Linked DNA regions of Homo sapiens. The protein of the gene in region 2 interacts with the protein of the main gene of each other region in a biochemical or structural test. Each region holds a gene or a part of one and is shown on either strand. Other genes may lie near its edges. The genes, in order: EIF6 and ITGB4.

The links.
Region 1: the proteins of ITGB4 (region 2) and EIF6 form a complex in vitro, tested with the Homo sapiens proteins (one study listed by BioGRID).

The regions. Positions count from the first base shown.
Region 1 is NC_000020.11:35,278,585-35,294,819, forward strand, and holds EIF6 (eukaryotic translation initiation factor 6), read right to left. Parts: upstream 6,189-16,235; 5' UTR 6,142-6,188; intron 6,134-6,141; exon of another isoform or gene 5,909-6,133; 5' UTR 5,904-5,908; coding exon 5,797-5,903; coding exon of another isoform or gene 5,678-5,796; coding exon 5,592-5,677; intron 2,246-5,591; coding exon 2,070-2,245; intron 1,535-2,069; coding exon 1,358-1,534; intron 1,164-1,357; coding exon 982-1,163; intron 623-981; coding exon 613-622; 3' UTR 334-612; downstream 1-333. Other genes in the region: protein FAM83C, read right to left, coding at 7,951-9,388, 9,877-10,001, 10,207-10,374, 13,208-13,720. UniProt on the Homo sapiens protein: Binds to the 60S ribosomal subunit and prevents its association with the 40S ribosomal subunit to form the 80S initiation complex in the cytoplasm. Behaves as a stimulatory translation initiation factor downstream insulin/growth factors.
Region 2 is NC_000017.11:75,752,459-75,758,318, reverse strand, and holds the end of ITGB4 (integrin beta-4 isoform 1 precursor), read right to left. Parts: coding exon 5,742-5,860; intron 4,555-5,741; coding exon 4,345-4,554; intron 3,744-4,344; coding exon 3,504-3,743; intron 3,265-3,503; coding exon of another isoform or gene 3,106-3,264; intron 2,619-3,105; coding exon 2,469-2,618; intron 1,891-2,468; coding exon 1,702-1,890; intron 1,616-1,701; coding exon 1,460-1,615; intron 1,377-1,459; coding exon 1,212-1,376; intron 1,120-1,211; coding exon 1,009-1,119; coding exon of another isoform or gene 998-1,008; exon of another isoform or gene 904-997; coding exon 764-903; 3' UTR 501-763; downstream 1-500. Other genes in the region: GALK1 (galactokinase), read left to right, coding at 1-109, 192-263. UniProt on the Homo sapiens protein: Integrin alpha-6/beta-4 is a receptor for laminin. Plays a critical structural role in the hemidesmosome of epithelial cells. Is required for the regulation of keratinocyte polarity and motility.

The DNA.
Region 1 (16,235 bases), on a different chromosome or scaffold from region 2:
AAAATAAACGAGGCGAGAGGATCGCTTGAGCCCAACAGGTCAAGGCTACAGTGAGCCATCCTTGCGTCACAACACTCCAGCCTGGGTGACAGAGGGAGACACTGCCTCAAAAAGAAAAAAGAAAAAAGGAGAACTGTAGTGGAGAGTGTTTCTTGCCCCAGGATGAAGCCTCACATCCTGATGGTAGAGGAGAAGGGAATGGCGTGTGTGGAGGTGGTGAACTGGGTTGGGTGTGTGTTGTGTTCATCCCACCCTATCTTCCCAGAATGCTGGAACAACTGGAGAGTGCAGGGATTGTACACAGGCTGAGGGCCCCAAACATCACATTCAGAATGGCCCGGAGGGAACTGCACTTTAATGGGGTGGCACAGGACAGCAGAACCCTCAGCCAGCAGCCACAGGGCCTGCCAGCCAGCACAACAGAGCAGGTTTTTGCAGTAATGATAGATCCAGGCGATAAGCACAGGTGGAAAAGGGTTGGGTGCCCAGCCCCTCAGTCCCAGTGAGCTCTCTGCCACCTCCCTGCCAGCATCCGGTACAGATTGGGCGGAATGTGGAGAAGGTTGGCCACAGTCCAGAGCCAGGAGCCCATGGAACAACTTGGAAGGTGACTCAGGTGAGGCTGAAGAGAAAGGAAAGCGCACGGTCAGTAGCTGTTTCACAGAGCCCACCTCACTCTCAAGTGAGGTGCCTGCCTCAGCCCTCATCCCGGGACCAGCTCTGACAAGCTGCTCAAGCAGCTACTGCTCTAGTATCCTAGCCCTGAAAAACCACAAAGATGAGGATTAGCAGATGCTCAAGAAATATTTTTTGAATATGCTGGCTCTTATCTGCTCAGCAGTGTACAGATATGCTCTCACACTCGAGAAGCTACCAGAACAAACTGGTAGGCTCCCATTCTAGATGACATCTTTTCCCCATACTCTCAAAATGCAAGTTAACCCCCAACCCTGAGCAGAAGAAAGGAGAGGCCCCAGGTACCTGTCAATGAGGGAATCCCGCATGCTGGTGGCAATGGTGCTAGGCTGGGCTTCATTCAGCTTGAAGACACTCTCCACCACTGACAGCTCTGTGCTGGTTGTGTCCAGGCCACAGAAGGCACACCAGTCATTCACCACCATCCCAGCAGCAATCACCTCACTGCCTCGGTTCACAGTCCCCGCCTGCCAAGGGATGGGCTCAATGTGAGTCACGGCACCAAATTCTCTCCCTCCTCAATGAAGACTCTCCCCAAACCCTGCTCCTCCCTGACCTGCAGCCCCAGTCCCAAACTGTGGCAGGTAATGACCCAGACTCCCAAACACTAGGCAAAAGGATCTGCCTCGGGAGACGGGGTTCAGAGGACAGGAATGCTTACCACAAGGGGGACTTGAAGAAGAGAGGACAGCTCATCCTGGTCTTCAATTGAAGTCTTGGGATGCACCAGCCCTCCCTGATTGCTGAAGACACAGTAGCTTCCTACTAGCACCTGGTCGGCCACTGTCTGTCTGAAGACTTCCACCTTGAGCACATCTGCCAGAATTTCTTCTGTCTCCTGTCAATCAAAGATATTGTGTTCAGGGCTCAGAACTTACAGCCCCAGAACCAAGGTTCTCCATGCCCAGAAGCATCCAGGCCTTGGCTCCCTGAGCCCCTCATTTCTCCTCTGTACCTCATATGAAAGCCTCACCCAGAGAAAGGAGGAAGTACAGCTTAGAGCAGAGTCAAGGGCAGCTGTGAAGCCCCTAATATTCATGCATGCCCTGAACAGCTGGAGGCTGGTCTCAATATCACTTCTTTCCCCTCTCACCCACAGTCAAAAGTTCAACAGTCAATCACCTATCCTGGCCCAGGATGCAGGACTGGATGGTTCAATCTCCCCAATCATGAAGGATTCATACCCTCCCCAGCTTCTTTCTGACACTTGATAAGGCCTCTGTTATCACTATTCCAATGAGTACCTGAAACTCAAGAGCCCATATAGAAAAACCACAGGAGAGACCCCTAATTGCTGCCTGTTGGGAAAGAACAGTGGCTAACCACTGACTAGGATGGCCCTGTGACTCTTGGGTCAAGTTGGGCTGCCTCACCCTGTCCAAGTCTGGGTGGACCAAGGCCACGTAGTCATTGCAGGTGGTGACATTGCCCAAGGCTGAGAGCCGCTCCTCCACCCGCCTAATCTGCACTGTGTCTGGGAGGCTGTTGCGAATGTGTTGCAGCTCCTGGTCGGTGGTATTGTTGGGTACCAGGAGACCGTGCCTGTTCCCTGGAGAAACCCAAATTAGAGGGTGAATACACAAGATGCCTGCTGAGCCCTAGGGGCTGAGGATACCACTCAGCCCAGCCCAATCAGCTTTCCCAGGAAAGCTTTAGGCCCAGAGCCCAGCCCTCCAACCCACTGATCTGGAAAACACCCAGGGCAGGCCAGAGACCACCCAGGAATCCCAATAAATCCTGCCTACTTCACCATCACCAACTGGGAGGGAAGCTGAGCTCTTGGCATTAGCTGTATATTTTGCTACTTAAAAACTGAGCTGCCGGGCGTGTTGGCTCACGCCTGTAATCCCAGCACTTTGGGAGGCTGAGGTGGGCAGATCACAAGGTCAGGAGATCGAGATCGAGATCATCCTGGCTAACACGGTGAAACCCCGTCTCTACTAAAAATACAAAAAATTAGCCAGGCGTGGTGGCGGGCGCCTGTAGTCCCAGCTACTCGGGAGGCTGAGGCAGGAGAATGGCGTGAACCCGGGAGGCGGAGCTTGCAGTGAGCCGAGATCGCGCCACTGCACTCCAACCTGGGTGACAGAGCGAAACTCCGTCTCCAAAAAAAAAAAACAAAAAAACAAAAAAAACTGAGCTAACACTACACACATAGCAGAATGGCTAGATTATTATTTTTTAAGGCAGAGTCTCACTCTGTCACCCAGGCTGGAGCGCAGTGGTGCGATCTCAGCTCACTGCAACTTCTGCATCCTGGGTTCAGGTGATTCTCCTGCTTCGGCCTCCTGAGTAGCTGGAATTACAAGTGCGTGCCACCACACCTGGCTAACTTTTTGTGATTTTGTAGAGATGGGGTCTCACTATGTTGGCCAGGCTGGTCTCGAACTCCTAACCTCAGGTGATCCGCCCACCTCGACCTCCCAAAGTGCTACGATTACAGGTGTGAGCCACTGCCCCCAGCCAGAATGACTAAAATTTTTACAAGTCATCAATTCCAAGTGTTGGCAAAGATATATGGAGCAACTGAACTCTCATACTGAGACAGGAGTGTAAGTTGGTCAATCACTTTAGATAATTATCTGGCATCATCTGCAACTACTACTAAATAGTCACATAACCTGTGACTCTGCCATGCCACTCTTAGGTATCATATACCCAGTAGAAATATGTACATGTGTTCACTAAAAAAACATAGCAGCACTATTACTTTTTTTTTTTTTTTTGAGACGGAGTCTTGTTCTGTTGCCCAGGCTGGAGTGCAGTGGCACAATCTCGGCTCACTGCAAGTTCTACCTCCCCGGTTCACACCATTCTCCTGCCTCAACCTCCCAAGTAGCTGGGACTACAGGCACCCGCCACCACACCTGGCTAATTTTTTTGTATTTTTAGTAGACACGGGGTTTCACCGTGTTAACCAGGATGGTCTCGATCTCCCGACCTCGTGATCCGCCCGCCTCGGCCTCCCAGAGTGCTGGGATTACAGGCGTGAGCCACCATGCCCGGCCAGCAGCACTATTCCTAACAGACCAAAGTGAAAACTGCCCAAATGCACTGTCGATGGAATGGATGAATACGTTGTGATATACTTACACAAAACACACCATACAGCAACAAGAATGAACAATCTACAAATACACGCCAATCAATTTCTGAATTCCAGGTCACTCCCATCATAAAATACACAAGGACTAAGCTAAAATCTCCCTTGTTGTCAGAACTTGCTTCAAGTCCTAAGGGCATGGTTAGAGATCAGAGTATTTTAACTGAATAGGAAAATACTTTGAGGTCACTAGGCTTAAGTTTTTGTTGTTGTTGTTTTTTGTTTTTTGTTTTTTTTTGAGACACAGTTTCACTCTTATTGCCCAGGCTGAAATGCAATGGCACAATCTCAGCTCACCGCAGGGTGAGCTCCACCTCCAGGGTTCAAGCAATTCTCCCGCCTCAGCCTCCCAAGTAGCTGGGATTATAGGTATGCGCCACCACACCCGGCTAATTTCTGTATTTTTAGTAGAGACGGGGTTTCTCCATGTTGGTCAGGTTAGTCTCGAACTGCTGACCTCAGGTGATCCACCTGCCTCGACCTCCCAAGCAGGCTTAAGATTTTTAAAAATTAAAGTAAAAGTAAAAAAATAAAATAAACAGACTTCTAAAAGTGACCTCAATGAGCAGAACTAAGAAACAATGGGCAGCAGTAATGGAAGACAGATCCAGCTTAATGAAAGGACCGGCCGGGCGCAGTGGCTCACGCCTGTAATCCCAGCACTTTGGGAGGCCGAGGTGGGAGGATCACCTGAGGTCAGGAGTTCAAGACCAGCCTGGCCAACATGGTGAAACTCCATCTCTACTAAAAATACAAAAAAATTAGCCGGGTGTGGCGGGATGCGCCTGTAATCCCAGCTACTTGGGAGGCTGAGGCAGGAGAATCACTTGAAGAGAGTGTTGCAGTGAGCCAAGATCGTGCCATTGCACTCCAGCCTGGGCAACAAGAGCGAAAACTCCATCTCAAAAAAAAATAATAATAATAATAAAAAGGAAAGGACCAACGACCAGAATTAACAGTGCTGACAGGTAGGAAGGTAGGGTAGAGATGTGGTAAAGGGAATTTAAGATTCCAACGTAACTGAGCAGGAAGACCGCATATCTTAGCTAATCTTTACAGAGACAGAAATGGATGCTTAGAAAGAGAAAGCACCTTGCCCAGTCAGTGGCAGGGAGAGATGAGATACAAATCCTCGGCTGGGTATAGTGGCTCTCGCCTATAATCCCAACACTTTAAGAGACCAAGGTAAGAAGATCACTTGAGCCCAGGAGATCAAGGCCAGGCTGGGCAACACAGGGAGGCCGCGTCTCTACCAAAAATGTAAAAATTAGCCAGGTGTGGTGGCACGTGCCTGTGGCCCTAGCTACCTGGTAGGCTGAGGTGGGAGGATCACTTGAGCCTAAGAAGTTGAGGATGCAGACAGCTGTGATCTTGCCACTGCACTCCAGCCTGGGCGAAAGAGCAAAAATCTGGCCTCAAAAAAAAAAAAAAAAGAGAAAAATCCTTCTCCAACACTAGGAACTAGGTGTGGAACTTACTGAGTCACTTAGGTCAAGTCTCAACTTCCTCATCAGTCAAGTTAGGCCAGTAACTCCTACCTTCTAGTGTCTTTGTGACGAAGGAATGAGAACAGGAGTGAAAGCACTTTACATTATTTGTTATTACTATTATCCAGCAGCCTTTGCTAGAGGGTTGCCCCGATCTCCTGACGCTTGGCCTGAGAGATTCTATAGTGCCCAGAGATAACAGATGATACCCTGGGAATCCCTAGGTCACTCCGGGTTCCCTCCGGGGGTGTAATTAATGGTGCTTGGAGACCACTCCCTCCCTCGGCGTCCTCCACCTGCCTTACCCACACACATGCGCCCGATGATGCGGCAGCCGGCGATAGACGCGTGCACCACGGGGATGGTATCGGAGAGCTCGCCCTCGAACACACTGTAGGGACATGGACTCGGTGGTGGCGGGGCAGAGGGGCCGGCACCCTCCCACTGCCGGAGCTCTTGACTCCTGCGCACGCCTCCCCGCCACCGTAAGCCCCGGGGCTCCCGCCGCACCTGTAGAAGTTCTCTGAGCCTCCGATCGCTACCAGACAGTAGGTGTTGGTGAGCTTGGCAAAGCAGCCGATCTCACAGTTGTTCTCGAACGAAGCTCGGACCGCCATGAGGCCTAGGGGCGGCGGAGGCGGGAGTTCAAGGCCGGCGGATCCTTTCCCAAGTATCCCGGCCTCCGTCCCTCAGGCCCCGCCGCGACCCCGCCCCTCTCGGCCTCCCGGCCCCTCCGTCCTCGGGTCCCGCCCACTGGGCCCCCACCAGAACCTCCGGCCCTGAATCCTCTGGCCCCCACCCCTCCCGACCCAGGACCGGAGCTGACCCTCCCAGGTTCCCCTCACACCAGCTTACCAAGTAACCAGTAACAAGCTCCGCACGCGGCGACTGTACCTTGGACTCCCTAAAAAGGTTTCCGTTTCCACTTCCGTCCAGGGAGACTTCCGGGAGAGCCCGGCGCTCCCCGCCACGCATCCAGCCCCTCTACCTCCGGCCTCCGGCGGACTCTATGGTCGCGAGCGGTCTGGGCGCGACCCCGCCTGGCCCCACGCCTAGCCTGCTCGCGTTCATTCATTCATTATTCATTCAGGAGCTTTTTAGGAGCTGTCATCGACCTAGACCTCCGGCTGGTCGGTTGTGAGGCATGAGGGAGAGGAGGGGCCAGGAGTGTCTCGCGGAAGGGTTGATGATGGAGGTATTGATGGAAATGAAGCCGGAGGAAGGGCAGGTTTGGGGAAAGGGATGAGTCCAGCTGTGCCTTGAGGGACAGAAGTCCATGTCTGGAGCCCAGCAGGGGAGTGGAGTGCTGACGAATGAGATGAGGGGCTGAAGACGGGTGGACTAGAAGAGGCTACCCATGGAGAGAGTTCCAGGAGGCAGAAGTGCGGCCAGACCGAGGCTGGAGAAAGAGCGCAGCCAGAGACGGAAAGGCAGCCAGGCTGCAGGTGCTGGAGAGAGGGGAGGACTGAGGAAGCAGGGGCTCAGGAAAAGGCTGGAAAGGGGTCCAGGGTGGGCAAGGATGTGGGTGCTGGTTGGCTTCCACGATGTGCCTCTCGCACGGCCTCTATCACTCACTCAGCAGCCAACTTCTGTCCCCAGGATAGTGATGGGGGCCAAGGGCCCTGCTGCACACTTGGACAGGATGAACTTGGCCCACATTTTGTAGAATCTGCAAAAGCCCCGGGTTCTCTCAAAATGTCACAGTGGTAACTTGGAGCCCCTGGACTCCCCCAATTCCTCCTTCGGCATTCACCCTCCTCCAGGGGTTTCCCCATAATTGGCCTGAATGGTGCCCTTCCCATTCCCCCAACGTGTCCCTCCCATAACTCCTCAAAGTTCAGGATACACCAGGCGCTGTGATTCACAATAAAGTCTGCCTTTATTGATGTGTATCATGTTTACTATCCCGGGTAAGTGGTGAGTTCAGGAAAATGGCCCACAACCTGTCACAGCCTGTACTTCAAGAGACACTCAGCAAGATGATGACGACGACAATGATGATGATGATGATGATGACTCAGCAAGATGATGACGACGACAATGATGATGATGATAATGATGATGTGTGTGTGTGTGTGTTTCCGGGTATCCACATACTCTGCTCTTCCTCACTCATTCACCTCAGACCCACTCAGTCCTCTTTAGGGCATCTCTTTCACCTGATTCTCTCTACCAAAAATTTTTCTAACTCTCTCCTCCCTCTGTCCAAAACCTCCCCATCCTTCAGGGCCTGGCTCAAAGGCCACCTCCATCTCCTCTAAGAAAGTTTTCTGACTACTCCACCTTCTCCAGGACTCTCTGCCCTTTGTTTTCTAACACCCTCTGTAACTGGTTAACCTTTAACTTGATATGGCTCTGACCCCTTCTCCAGCAGCTTGTGCATTTCACCTCTGTCCCCAGGTCTGAGTGTGACCCACCTGTCAGCTCTACAGGCCCAGCACAGGGCTGGAAACACAGCCTAGATTCAAGAAGATACTAGTTAGGGTGTGTGTGTGTGTGTGTGTGTGTGTGTGTGTACACAAGAATCTTGAGCCCAGAGAGTGTGTCTGACCTGGGTTTCTAGACACCTCCCTTCCCCAGTCTGGGACCTGAGCAAGTCCAGAGTCTCGGTGGACAGAGGAGGGGCCTGCCCTTGCCAGTGCACCCCCGATGCCAGTCCTTTGGCTAGGACTCAAAGCGGCTTCGGAGCTGCTTGAACTTGGACTTGTTGTACTTAGTGATGAGGTCCAGTTTGCTGTGACCCAGGGTCAGCCGTTTCTCATCCCTGACCAGGTCACTGTTACCACCATTGAGATGGCCACCCTTGGGACCCCCAGGCTCAGTTCCCTGCCTGGCCCCGTGCAACTGATGATACTTGGTGATGAGGTCCAGCTTGCTGTGGCCCAGGGTTAGCCGTTTCTCATCCCCAGACCCAGCTCCAGCCGTGCGAGCAGGGCTTGATATCGGGAGACCATTGGGCCCAGGCCCCTCACCACGGAATGGGCCGAACTTTGTGATGAGGTCCAGCTGGCTGTGCCCCAGGGTCTGCCGCCGCTCATCTGGTGCCCGTCTGGCAGGTCTGGCTGAGGAGTTGGTTTCAAGGGGCACTCTGGAACCCTGGGCCTTGGGGTACTGCATCAGGAGGTCTGATTGGCCACGGCTTTGGTTTAGGGACAGCCTCCTGTCCTCCAGGGCCCGATCACCAGGTCTGAGGGAACCCAACTCAGGGGCACCCCCAGTACCCAGGGCTCGGGACAGGAGATCCAGCTGGCTGTCGGCCTGGCTTGGGGACAACCTCCTGTCCTCTGGGGCCTGCTCGCCAGGCCGAAGGGGGCCTGAGTTGGGGGTAACCCCAGAGTCAGGGTCTCCCACTTCTCGGGCTCTGGGGAAGGGGACAAGGAGATCCAGCTGGCCACGGCTCTGACTTGGAGATGCCTTCTTCTCCTTCTCCTCCACTGTCTCCAGGGTTGTGCCAGGTACCCATCGACCCCGCAGGGGGCTGGGCTCTTGGCTTCCTGGGAGCCCATTCTCTGGGAACCGGGACAGAGCTGGGGCACCCCGATGGAACTGGAGGAGGGGCCGGGAGCGAGGAAGCAGAGGTGACCCCACTGCCAAGGTTAAGGGGCTGGTACTATTATGGTTGAGGGCAGGGGAGGACTGGGACCATGGGTATGCCCCTAGCTTGCCGAGATTGGCCCTATAGAGCCCAGGAGGGGAGCCGTGGTTAGGGTCTGACAGTTGGCGATGTAGGGAGGGCTGGCCACTGGCCTCACGGCGGGCAGGACCCAGGGACGAGGACACCACACCCGTATCACTGCAATCACCACCTCCTGGTAGAGCGAGGTAGGAGGAGCGACCCATAAGCGGTGACTGCTTGATGCTGCTGAGGCTGGTGCTGGAGGGCAGGGACGACGTGGGGCTTGGGACATCAGGCCTGAAGGCTAGGGCCACAGGGGGAGGACGCAGTGCCCGGGGAGACAGCGGGTCCTCACCGCCACAGAAGCCCTCCACAGGCTGCGACTCAGCGTACAGACAGCGGAACTCCCGGTCAAAGTCTTCCACGATGCGGCCCCTCAGCTGCAGCACCATGCTAGTGTGGGCCTGGCTGCAAAGCCAGGTGAAGCTGGGGGCAGAGGGACAGGGGGGTCAGGAGGCAAAGTGCAGGATCCTGGGGGTCGGCAGGAGTCACAGCCAGGGGTGCATACCTGGTCCAGCACGCTAGACCCAAACCCCACCACCACGAGGGCTCACAGCGAGGGGCAGAGCTCCAACTCCAGAGTCTGTGCTTGCCCTAGCCCTGCTTAGTGTGTGACCTCATGGAGGCCCCAACTTCCCCATCTGTCAAATGGACTTGGGGGAGGTTCCCTGAAGTCACTCCAGTTCCAATGGGCATAGTCATTTTCTATACCAAGGGTATTAAAGTAATCATTCCCCTAGAGTGAGCTCCTCCAGGGCCGATGCCCCCGACACCCTCCCCTGAGCCTGGCATGATGCCTGGCACATGGCAGGTACTCAGCCCGTGTCCGAAGGAAAGGATGAGTGGAGGGAAGCTCAGAGCTGCCAGCCAGTGATGCAGCCCCAGGCCCCCCTTGCCTCCTCGTGCCTGCTCACCTGTAACTGCCCGCCACCACTTGCTCACAGTCAATGAGGACGAACTTCTCCAGGGCCTGCCCCGTGAAGCGGCGGCCAGCCTTGCTGCAGTATGTGTCCCCACACGTGCTCCGCACACGCATGTTCTAGGTGGAAGTAGGTTGGGGGTGACCTTGAGAGAGTGAGGCTCAAGCCATGTCTCTGCCCCATGGGGTCTCTAACCCCAGACAGCTAAGGGAACCCACCCCCCACTCCCAGTGCCCCCCAGTGCTGACTGGCCACCCACTGGCTCCCCTGCCCTCCCTGACTCCCCGCCCACACCCCTGGTTACTGCCCCTGGTCCTCACTGACCGGCAGGTGCTCCCCATTGAGGTCCATCTTGTAGCACATCTCCAGGAAGTGCCTCAGGTGCTCCTGGGCAAGGAGCAGGTACACAGGGACACCACGCCGGCTTGAGGCCTCCATGAGGTCACACAGAAGCTCCATGTCAGTGAATATGTCCATCACCACAGCCACCACCTGGGTGGGGGGAGGCACACGAAAGCTCAGCGCTGCCCAGGGCACTCCCCACATCCAGCCAAACCTGGGGCAGGAAACTGGGCGCCGGGAAAAGAGTACTGGACTGAAAATCAGGAGGCCAGAGCCTTCAAGAGCAAGTGAACAGGAAGGGCACTTAGCAGTGACCTAGCCCAGGGCTTCTTAACTTGGGCACAGGCAGATTTGACTGTCTTCTTTTTTTTAAGAGTCAGTGTCTGTCTCACTCTGTTGCCCAGGCTGCAGTGCAGTGGCGTGATCATAGCTCTCTTCTGCCTAGAACTCCCAGGCTCAAGCAATCTCCTCCCAACTCAGCCTCCCAAGTAGCTGGTATTATAGGCATGTGCCACTATGCCTGGCTAATTTTCTTTTCTTTTTTTTTTTTGAGACAGAGTCTCACTCTGTTGCCCAGGCTGGAGTGTAGTGGCGTGATCTCGGCTCACTGCAACCTCTGCCTTCTGGGTTCAAGCGATTCTCGTGTCTCAGCCTCTCAAGTAGCTGGAATTTCAGGCATCCACCACCATGCCCAGCTAATCTGTATTTTTAATAGAGATGGAGTTTCACCATGTTGGCCAGGCTGGTCTCAAACTCCTGACCTTGTGATCTGCCTGCCTTGGACTCCCAAAGTGCTGTGATTACAGGCGTGAGCCACCACGCCCAGTCGCTAGTTTTTTTTTAATTCTAATTTTTTGTAGAGATGGGGTTCTCACAAGCTGGTCTTGAACCCCTGGCCTCAAGCGATCCTCCCACCTCAGCCTCCCAAAGCACTGGGATTACAGTCAAATCCCAGCCCAGATTTGACTGTCTTGAACCCCTAGCTGTTTGAAAGCATTTGTGTGCATCCTTCTGTGCACCGAGTGTTTATCCATCATCAGATTCTCAAAGATGACTGTGGATCAGCTGTGCTAGTCCAACACTCCCTCTGCACTGAGCCCCAGATGGGACAGCAGTGAGAAGGAGAACCCAGACCCCAATTCCCAGGCAAGTTCCTGGCACTCCCCCGACTAACTCCAGCCCAGCTCTGACCCAGGGACTGTCTGTCTGAGGCTCCCTTCTCCAGGGTCACAGCTACAAGCCACTTACTGGGGTCTTCGCTGCCCTTTCCCAGTCCTGCCTCAGTTTCCCTGTGAAGCCACAGAGGTCTGGTGTGACCCCTTACACTGCAGACTCCCTTACTTGCACCCATGCCAAATGGATCCAAGTTTTCTGCTCAGTTGAGGGCTGGGCTGGGGCTTGTGCCTCCATCCCATATAAAGGGCTGCCTCAAAGAGGCCCCTGAAACCTTCTTGGCACCTCCCAGCCCCCAGCTGGCCTTTCTTCCCATGGCATATATCTGCTATGAGAGTCTTCTCTCCCAGGCAGGGCCGAGAGGCAGGAGGTACAGAGCATAGCACTCCAGCTCTGGAGTCAGAAAGAACTGGGTTCAAACCTGGACTCTATCACTTCCTGGTGACACAGCTTTGGGTGAGTCCCTTCACCTCTGGAAGCCTCACCTTCCTCATCTGTTAAATGGAGATAATGATAGCCATGTCTCAGAGTTACAGGGAATTAAATGTGAAAATGCTCAAGACATAACAGAGCTCTATAAACATTGGGCTGCAGGGCAACGCAGCATTTCCCAAGGTCACTAGGAGTCATGACAGCCCAGTGCACGAACCTGGCTCCTGACCCAGGATAGAGGGGTCTAAATGGGGGCTGAGAAGGCGAGGCACTGGGGGATGCCCTAGTTCACAGCACAGGCCTGGCCAGGGTGGGGGAACAAGGACAGGCAGGAAGATCAAAGAGGCAGGGGTGAGGAGGACGACAGCAGCAGCCTCACTAATAACCCCATTCCTGATGCCAATCAGGCCTGGCCGTCCCCTGCCTGGGGCACAGGAAGGCTTGCCAGGGAGGCTCTGGAAGTACCGGTGGGATCCCAGCATCCTGGCTTCCCATCTCTGCAGCAGGAGCCTAACTCTCCCTCAAACCCTGCCAGGGATCATCTCGTCCATTCCCCTGGAGTCGGAGGCCAGGGCTTCAGAAGGGAAGCTGTGCTCGTGTGTGGCCAGAGCCTTTCTGGGTGCTGACCACCCCTACCTGCCCTCCCAATTCTCTTTCTCCTGAGCTCCCGCTCCCCATCACTGAGCCCAGCAGCCTCCTCTCCTCCTTCCTCCTTGGTTCCAAAGCCCAGCCCTCAAGGCCACGCCAAAGAGGCCCACACGCTGGCCCCTTCCCCTGCTTCAGGCCCAGCTGCAGATGTGGTGCAGGAGGGTAGGGGGCAACTAGGGACCTGAGCCAGCAAGGAGGGCCGGACTGGTCCCCAGGACCCAAGTCAGAGAGCCCCTGTCTCCCCAAGCCCTGAGCTCTATGTCACCATATGGACCTCCCTGGGCAAGTCCCAAGCCCCTCTCTGGCCTCAGTTTCTTCTTCTATAAGTGAAGGAGGTGACTCAGATGTTCCCCAAGGTTGGAGTTCTTAGTGTGGGGATCATAAAACTTTTTGAGAATCTGATTTAAGGCAGTGGAGCATCTTCCAAGGTAAAGATGCAGCGAGGACTCCTCCCTCCAACCTGCACCACTTCGTGTGCATTTCAGGGGATTGTGGAGTCCCTGACACCCATGCCCTGTTCTATGCTCATCCATACTATTCCTGGGTACCAAGCAGTTGCCAAGGTAAATATGGGATGTCCCCCTTCTAGGAGTTTGCAATCTAATAGTGCCAGAGGTGCTGGTCCTCATTCTGCCCCTAAGTCGCTGTGTGGCCTTGGGCTGGTCCCTTCCCTCTCTGGACCTCAGTTTCCTCCTCTGTGAGATGAGTGATGGAGAGATGAGGCCCTTACCGTGTGGGCCTGGCTGAAAAGGAAGCGCAGCAGGTCCTTGATGTTCTTGGCCTTGTCCCTCTGGAAGTGGACCACAGCCTGGGTGGGGCTGAAGCCTGTGGCCTGTGGCACCTCGGGCCAGCCCAGGTCCAGGTCTGGGGGGTCTATGTCAGAGGCCATGGGGAAGTAAGTCCCTGAGGTGACTTCAGAGAGCAGGCTGAGGCGGTCTGGCCCGGAGGCCTCCTGCCCCTGAGCCTCGCTGAGCTCAGGGCCCCCGCGCACATGGCTGGTCATGTAGTCCACATCCAGGGCGCTCAGGAAGGGCAGCTCCCGCTCCTCGGAGATGACCCGCAGGTAGGCAGCCTCACCCCGCTCCAGGAGGGCGTCGGCCGCCAGCCGAGCCGCCTCGCTGTGCCGCAGCACCAGCGGTGAGCTCTCCCGCCACCACGGCAGCTTCAGCTCTTCCACCCGGCCCCGCAGGGGTCCCGCCATGCCCTGGGCTCCCAGGACCCCAGGCCCCGGGCCTCCGAACATGCCTGCCACGCGGCTGCCTCACCCGCCGGCAGGGCCCATGGCCCGCACGCTGGGCTGGCTGCAGCAGGAAGAGGAGACCAGCAGAACCGCCTTCTGCCCGCCCGCTCGCTGTGTGTGTGGCAGGGCCCCCAAACTGTTGCCACCCTAAATCAGAGCCACGCTCCACCCTATTGCCCCTGGCCTCTGGAACCTGTCAGGTCAGCCCCACCTGTCTGCCTGTGTTGGGACTCGCCTGCCCAGGGAAGCGGCAGTGCCAGGCCCTCGGTGCACACTCCTGCCTCCCTCTCTTCCTCCCAGCAACGCCGCCCCATCCCCACCAGGCTCCCAGCAAGTCTCCAAATGCTGACTTCCCGGGACCCACAGAGGTTGAATTACAGCCAAGAGGGGCCCAGGCGACTCAGGAACACACACTCACACGCACACGCACACACACTGCAGGTGGGTGAGCGACTCAAGACACCCAGGAAAAGACATGAACACCCATGCAGATGGACACACTGACAACTGACCGATACACAGACATGGAGTGTGGGCTGACACAGACCGACCACACATTGTAATCACATCCACTTGCATAAACTCTTCACCCAAACGCCGATGTAGAGACCGGCCATGACCCCCACAACACATACCACAGTGGATAGCACGTGCCCTGGCTCAAGTCTGCAAGGCCCTGAGAGCTGAACGACTGTCACATGGAATATCCAAGGACATCAACGCTGGTCTGTCCCCCAGCCAGCCCTCTTTTTGCTCCCATAATCGTCCTGCCACTCTCCATCATCTTAACTGTGGTGCTCACAGCCCCCTGGCTCTCTCCCACCCCGGCTCGGAGCTGTCCTTCAAGAACCTAGAGCAGTGGCTCTCACCCTGACCCCAGGGGTGGTGAGAGGTGATGAAATGCAGATCCCCGGGCCCCACCCTCCTGGAAATTCTCATCCAGAAGGTGTCCGTAGGCTTCTGGAGCTTGTCTTTTTTCTTTTTCTTTTTGAGATAGGGTCTTGCTCTGTCACCCAGTCTGGAGGGCAGTGGCGCAATCACAGCTCACTACAGCTGTGCCTCAGTTTCTCTGGACTCGAGCGATCTTCCCACCTCAGCCTCCTGAGTAGCTGGGATTACAGGTGCATGTTACCATGCTCGGCTACTTTTAAAATTTTTTTAGAGATGGGATCTCACTATGTTGCCCAGGCTGATCTTGAACTCCTGGCCTCAAGCAATCCTCCTGTCTCAGCCTCCCAAAGTGCTGGGATTACAGGTGTGAGCCGCCACACCTGGCCATTTTTCTTTTTTAATTGAGACATGATCTTGCTCTGTCACCCAGGCTAGAGAGAGCAGTGATGTGATCATAGCTTACTGTAACCTCAAATTCCTGAGTTTTTAAACAAGTGCCCAGTGCACTGTGGGCAGTGGGCTAAGGCCCACCCCTGAGACATGCTGTTCCAGATGGCTGTGCTTGCAACACCCTTAACTCCAGGGATGTTCTTGGCCTGGTGGTGGCCAGACCCCAGCCTTCTTCCCCTCCTCCAGGGCTGAGTATGAAAATGGTTGGAAGGTTGTTTCAGAGAATGGGCGGACACACTGCAAGGTCAGGAGGCAAACAGGGCAGGTAGATTTCTGACCTCTGCCCCAACAAAGATTAAAGTCCTGGAGCATGTACCGTGTGTCCTTCGGAGGATGGTGAGCAGCTTTGCTCTGGGGAAGGGGGTGAGCAGGTGACAGCTGCAGCTGGGGAGCCAGGCTAGGCAGAAGCGGTCACCACCTTTCCACGGAGGCATGAGGTCCAGCGAGGATGGCGGGAAGCGCAGAAGACCTAAAGCCGTGCCTCGCAGCCTGTTTAGCACTAAGCGCACTTGGTTTATCTGGTCTGCGATCATGTCCGGAACACAGGGTCTTCTGTGTCCAAAGAACTTGACACACATATAGTGGGAGGGAGCTGGGTGGGATTTAGAGGTTCCGGAGTTGAGCTGAGCCCTAGGACCAAAGGTGAATGGGGCTAGGGCTGTGTCTTCAAGGACCCTATAAGTGAAGGGCCTGGGGGAGCATGGGGGAGCCACAGGTCAGGAGTTATGGCCTACTCCATCCCATCCCAGGTGCAGGAGCACCGGGCACTCCAAGGAGGCCCTTCCATGGGGGTGAGGAGGCTGCAAGAGGGGCAGAAGGTTGAGTAAACAAAGCCAGACCGTGGGAGGGTGATGAGCTGTGGGGGCAGCCGAGGTGGCAGGGCCATCATTAGGGCCTTATCTCCAGATTTGTTTGAAGGGGAGGACCAACCAGGGTCTTATCTGGGTGGTAGAAGTGCTCCCGGGAGGGAGGGAGGCATGTTTGCGTGTCACTGAGTTAGTTTTGTTTATCTTGCAGTGTGTATACATCTACTTCAGGTACATATCTTTGGCTCTGTATCTTTTAATTGTGGTAAAATACGCATAAAATTTGCCTTTAAAAAATAATTCGTGGCCAGACGCTGTGGCTCATGCCTATAATCCCAGCCCTTTGGGAGGCCGAGGTGGGCGGATCACCT
Region 2 (5,860 bases):
TGCTGTGCCTGGGGTTTATGGCAGCCGCATGACGGGCGGTGGCTTCGGTGGCTGCACGGTGACACTGCTGGAGGCCTCCGCTGCTCCCCACGCCATGCGGCACATCCAGGTGGGCGGGCACCAGGGCCTGGGCGGGCAGGAGCGGCAGCTTCCCGGGGCCCTGCCACTCACCCCCAGCCCGCCTCTTACAGGAGCACTACGGCGGGACTGCCACCTTCTACCTCTCTCAAGCAGCCGATGGAGCCAAGGTGCTGTGCTTGTGAGGCACCCCCAGGACAGCACACGGTGAGGGTGCGGGGCCTGCAGGCCAGTCCCACGGCTCTGTGCCCGGTGCCATCTTCCATATCCGGGTGCTCAATAAACTTGTGCCTCCAATGTGGTACCTGCCTCCTCTAGAGGTGGGTGTATGCTTGGGTGTCAGAGAATGGGGGATGTCAGAACCGCTCCCCTACCCTAGGGGAGCACCTCTCAGGCCCCAGAAGAATGGGCAAGGCAGGGCCTAGCAGTAGCAAAACCATTTATTAAGTGCAGAACAAAGGCTGGGTCCTTGTGCTGCTCCCAGCTCTTTGGTTACAAATAGGTTTGGGCCCACAGAGGACGGACCTTGCCCCCTTCATGCCTCCCAGGAGACACCTAGCCCCTGCTCTGTGCATGCGGGTGGGCTGGGCCCCCAGGGGTGCAAGGATGGAGTAGCTGAGGAGGCTCCGGGAGAGGAGTCGGGAGGACGCCTAGTGGGACGTGGCGGGGGTGGGGCAGGGTGCGGTCAAGTTTGGAAGAACTGTTGGTCCATGTGGGTGCTAAGGGTTCCGCTGGTGGTCAGTGTCCGGCTCACAAACTCCTGGGTCACATGCCGGGTGAGGGAGCCGCCTGCCTCCAGGTGCTGGGCCCCCAGGGTCAGCCCATCTGTGGAGGAGGAGGCATTAGATGACCTGGCTTGGGGTCTGCCCTTCTCCCTCTGCTAGCTCCCTGTCCCAGGAGAGCCGGGATCCCCTAGCCCTCAGTGCTCACCCACTAGGAAGGGCTCGGTGGCGCTGGTGTGGGTGGTGGTGATGCTGCTGTACTCGCTTTGCAGCGGGTGCTGGAAGAGCCCGGCACGGCTGCCCAGCTGCGGGAAGGGTCCTGGGGTGGGCAGATAGGCCAGTCAGAGGGTGGTGCCAGAAGGAGGCACGGCCCGAGGAGGGGTGGGGGTGAAGGAAAGGACAGGTGCCTACCTCCATCCTGGGACTCTATGGTGATGATGCCCTCGCGCTCTGGCCCGAAGCCCTCAGTGGTCCTGGCCTGCACCTTGAACTTGTAGGGCACGTTCTCGCTGAGGCCCGGCACGGTCAGCCGGCTCTCGGGGCTGTCTCCATCCACCCGGAATGCGGTGGCTGGCCCTGAGCAGGGAAGATGCCTTCAGCGTCTGCGGCCCCCTCTTTACCCCTCCCCTGGCCACTCCTGCCCCCGGGGTGGGCAGCACCTCCTCCTTGGGCCATCTCACAGGTCACCAGGTAGCCGACGATATCCCCATTGGGCCTCCGTGGCCGCTCCCAGCTCAGCTGCAGCGAGTCTGGGCTCAGGGCAGTGAACACCAGCGGGCCTGGGGCACTGGGAGTGCTCAAAGTGAAGGCGGAGCCTGGGGGCAGTAGAGGAAGAGCATCAGCCTGTGGGTGGGTGGTGGGCATGATGGGGGCAGCTCTGGGGCTGGGGGAGGCAACTCACCTGGCAGGGGACACAGTGGGCTCTGCGGGTGCACCTGGGATTCAATGGTGATGACACCCTCACGCTCTCGGCCCCAGCCTTCCTGGCTCTGGGCCCGCACGCGGAACACGTAGGAGTGGTTGGGCAGGAGGTCTTCCACCACCACCGAGGTCTGGGCAGGGTTGGGGATGTTGAGCCGATGCAGCTCACCTGGGGGGATCAGGTGGGGGCACACAGTAGTGCAGTGTTACTCCCACCCCTGGCCTGATCCTCCTCGTCCCTAAGCTGCCATCGAGACCTAGTTATCACCCACCCAGGACTAGCTGTGGTTTGGGTACAGGTTGGGTACAGTATGGTATGGCTGGTTGTTCAGATTGTGTACTATACAAGAGTGGAGCCTGTAATCCCACTCATGTTTAGGCAACATCCTGCATCCTGGTCATGCTGCTTTGAATGTGCCTGCCCAGGGAAGTGCCACTTCCTTGTTCCCCCAAAGGCATCTCAGGCCAGCAGAGGCCCTAGGATCCCAGCCCAAAGGGGCCTTGTTAGGCAAAACCTAGCAGAGAATGACCAGGAGAGAGGCCCAGGGAGGTGGGTGAGACCTCAGAAGAGGGGAGGCAAAGAAGTGGGGTGGAGAATGGGGTGGGAGACCCTCTCAGGCTGGATGGGGGCTTTAGCGCTCAAGGGACTTGGGTGGGTTCCTGACACAGCTGAGGTACCCTATGTGTCACACTGGGGCCAGGCCTTGCAGGGCTGCACCCCGCAGCCTGGCAGCCACCATGCCTCACCGCCGTTCAGCAGCTGGTACTCCACACTGTAGCCCTGCAGCGGCCGCTCGCACCGCGGCTCCTGCCAGCTCACTCTGAGAGATGTGGGCCCCAGGGCAGAGAACACCAGGCGGGTGGGCGTGTCGGGCACACCAGCAGTCAGGCGAGAGTCTGGGGACAGGAGGCCGCAGTCAGCCAGAGATGCAGGGGCTAGGGTCTCAGTGGGAGTCACAGTGCTGCCCCCTGACCTCCCTCCCTCAGCTGGCATGTCTACACTGACCGCTGGCTGGACAACTCACTCACCCTGCAACACCCTGTCCAGGCTGCCCAGCACCTACCGCACATCCTCCAGCAGGGTGCAGGCCCTGCTTGTGCCAAAAGAGAGTGAGCCCCGTGAGTCTGCCAGCCCCACCCCCTCAACTGCTCAGCTGGCCTGGCCCCTCTCCTGCCCCAGCCCCAGCCCCGCCCCCTGGGAGGGCAGAGGCAGAGTTAGGCATCAGCACTGATGGTAGGGCAGGTGGTTAGCGCCTGTGGGCAGGCGGGGGTCCTGTGGATGGAATGGAGGGGAAGCAGTGGGCACAGCTGGCGGCTGCTATGGTGGCTGGATGACAGATGGAGCAGGACAGCTGTGGAGACAGGATGGCCACCCCTGTACTACCTGGGCCCCAGGAGGGCGCTGCTGGCCTCCCAGCCAGGATTATAGAGTCTCGTGGGCCCCTGGAAGGGGGGAACCCTTTCATCTGAGCCCGACTCCGGGACCCCAGGGCCCAGGACAGCGGAAGCCTGCTCCTCCCGTGTTCCCAGATGGGAGGGAGGCCTAGGGCAGGACAAAACAAGAGTGAGAGGAGCAGGGAGTGTGCATGCATGTGTGTACGTGTGCGCATGCATGTCTGTGTACATGTGTGCATGCGTGTGCACGTGTGTGCGTGCATGTGTGCATGCGTGTGTGTATGTTGGAGAATGGGCGGTGGGGACAGCAGACAGAAGCCCGAGGCTCCAGGAGCTGGAAGAGAGGAAGGGTTAGTGGGAGAGGCAGGGTTGGCTGAGGTCACTCACCGTGGGAGGAGACGGAGGTGAGGGTGGAGTAGTCCCTGGGCAGTGTGGTCGAGTGTGAGTGTTCTGAGCGGGTCAGTGAGTTGTAGTCCCGTGTGAGGGTGGAGGATGTGCTTAGCACGCGGTGGGGCACGTGTGGGCTCAGGTGGGTGCCATAGGCAGCAGCACTGGTCGTGGTCATCCTGTGCAGGGAGTTGGTGCTGCCCGGGAAGGCAAAGTCCATCCGGCCATTCACCAGGTGCTCTGCAGGGGGAGAGCAGGGTCCCTTGGTCAGGCCTGCCCCAGACCCGGGCCCCGTGGGGCAGGCTGGGCCCTGCACATTCCTGGTCACCCACCCTCTGGGTGGCTTTTGCTTAAATACAACCAGTTTCCCTCAAACCACTAGGGACAGAGGCCCTCTGTCCCTGCAGGAGCCCAAGGGCCACCCAGGCTTCCACAGCCCATATCCTCTGGCCGGCCACTCTATCGGTGTGAGCACTGCTGACCCTGGCAGTGGCGGGGGTTTGCTGCGTCTGCAGTCAGCTCTGCCCTGGGGAGATCCCCAAGCCTTCCCTCCTGTCCTTTGAGGCCCCTGAGGGGTCTACTTGGGTGCCAGGGTCCGCTTCCCGGGCAGACTTCTGAATTTGCACCCCCTGGCCAGGCAGGCACCATAAGGGCCCAAGCGCCTGCCTCACGCGTCCCCTGGCACTGGGCCCTGCCTCTGAGCAGCTGTGCTCCCAGCCGCCAAGGCCCGGGCCTGGCTGAAACTGGGGCCCCCGAGGCAGCGCAGACGCCCACCCCAGGCCCTCAGGCGCGAGTGAGGCTGGGTGGGCGCGGATCGGGGGGCGGCGGGTGAGCCTGTCACCTCCGGGGGGCCCGGGTGTCGCACTGCGGGGCAGGCTGCCGCCCTTCCCGCCCGCGCCGCCGTCGTCCGGGGGCCCGTGGGGCGCCTCGGCGTCGGAGGAGCGCCCGCTGCTGGCCGACAGGCGCGGGATGAGCTCCGGGGGCAGCCGCCACGTGACGCGCCGCAGGTCCAGCTCCTCCCCCAGCAGGGGCTCGAACTTCCAGCCGCAGCCTTGGGAACAACGAAGGGCCGCGTTGGCACCGCCGGGGGGCGCCGGGCCGAGCAGGGCCAGGCGGGGGAAGGCCGTAGGCTCTGCGAGGGGAGCCCGTCTCCAGCTCCCGGGATCCCGGGGTGTGTGTTGGGGGCGGGGGTAGATGCGCACGGCCGGAGCGGGAAGGCCGCGGCAGGTGAAACCCTTGCGCGGCTGAAGCCTTTCCAGATGAGCGAGTGCAGCCTCGGCACAGCTGGGGAGGAGAGACCCCCGGACCCGCCAGAAACCTGGGGGAAGTCTGGGCTCTGTCACCAGCTGTGAGGTCTCCCTTGCTTTACTTAACCTCTCCGAGACTCAGTTTCCCGTTTGTACAATGGAGAGAGGAATCTTGCCCCTGCCCGCCTCCCAGGGACCGTTCCGCAAGCCACCGAGCGCTTCGCAGGTAGTGTTAGAAGCAGCTGAGCTGGGGTTCCAGAGTCACACCAGCTGCGCTCCACCTGAACCCCTCAAAATGGCTCCTTAAGCCCAAGCTGAGCCCCGTGGGGGCCAGTATGTGTTCACCGGGGGCAGCTTGAGGCATCGGCAGGGACAGAAGAAAATACAAAAGATATACGTGCCCCAGAGGTTTTTCCACTCATGGTACTGTGTGATTGGTATCCCATTATACAGAGCAGAAAAGTGAGGCATGGAAAGGATGAGTGATTCATCTGATGTCCCACAGGTGGAGCCACAGCTGACACTGAGCACTCAGGAGGCCCAGCTAAGGGCTCCGCAGCACTTTGTGCTGGGAATCAAGGAGGAAGGACAGAGCTGTTGGGGGTGTTCTTGTCTCCTTGGCTCCCCTACCCCTGCCAGGTGGCCGCCTGGTGGCTGCCCAGGGCTCCTGGGCCAGGCCTGCCCCTGGGGGGTGGCCTGAGTGTCCTGTGTGCATGGCACAGCTGGTGAACCTTCAACTTGTGAAGCTGTGTTTCTTCGTGGTCCCGTGGGCATGAACTCATGTGCGCTTGCACAAGGCTGTGTGTGTCTGTCCCCCAGGCACTGGTTCCTGTGCCCCATGCACAGATGTGCACTCCATTGCATTTGTCCAAGGCTGCCTTAACCTCCATGTCCTCTAGTTGCTGGCCCCTTTGCCCTCTCTGGACCCAGTGGACTCACTCTGTACCCAAGACCCCCACTGTCCTCTTGTGGGTCCCAGGTCTCCACTCACCAGTGTCATCGGAGACGCTGGGCCTCTGGCTGCCCGATGGAGAGCGTAGAACGTCATCGCTGTACATAAGGAAGCTGTCGTAGTCCTCCCCGCTCTGGGCGTCCACGATAGGGATGTCA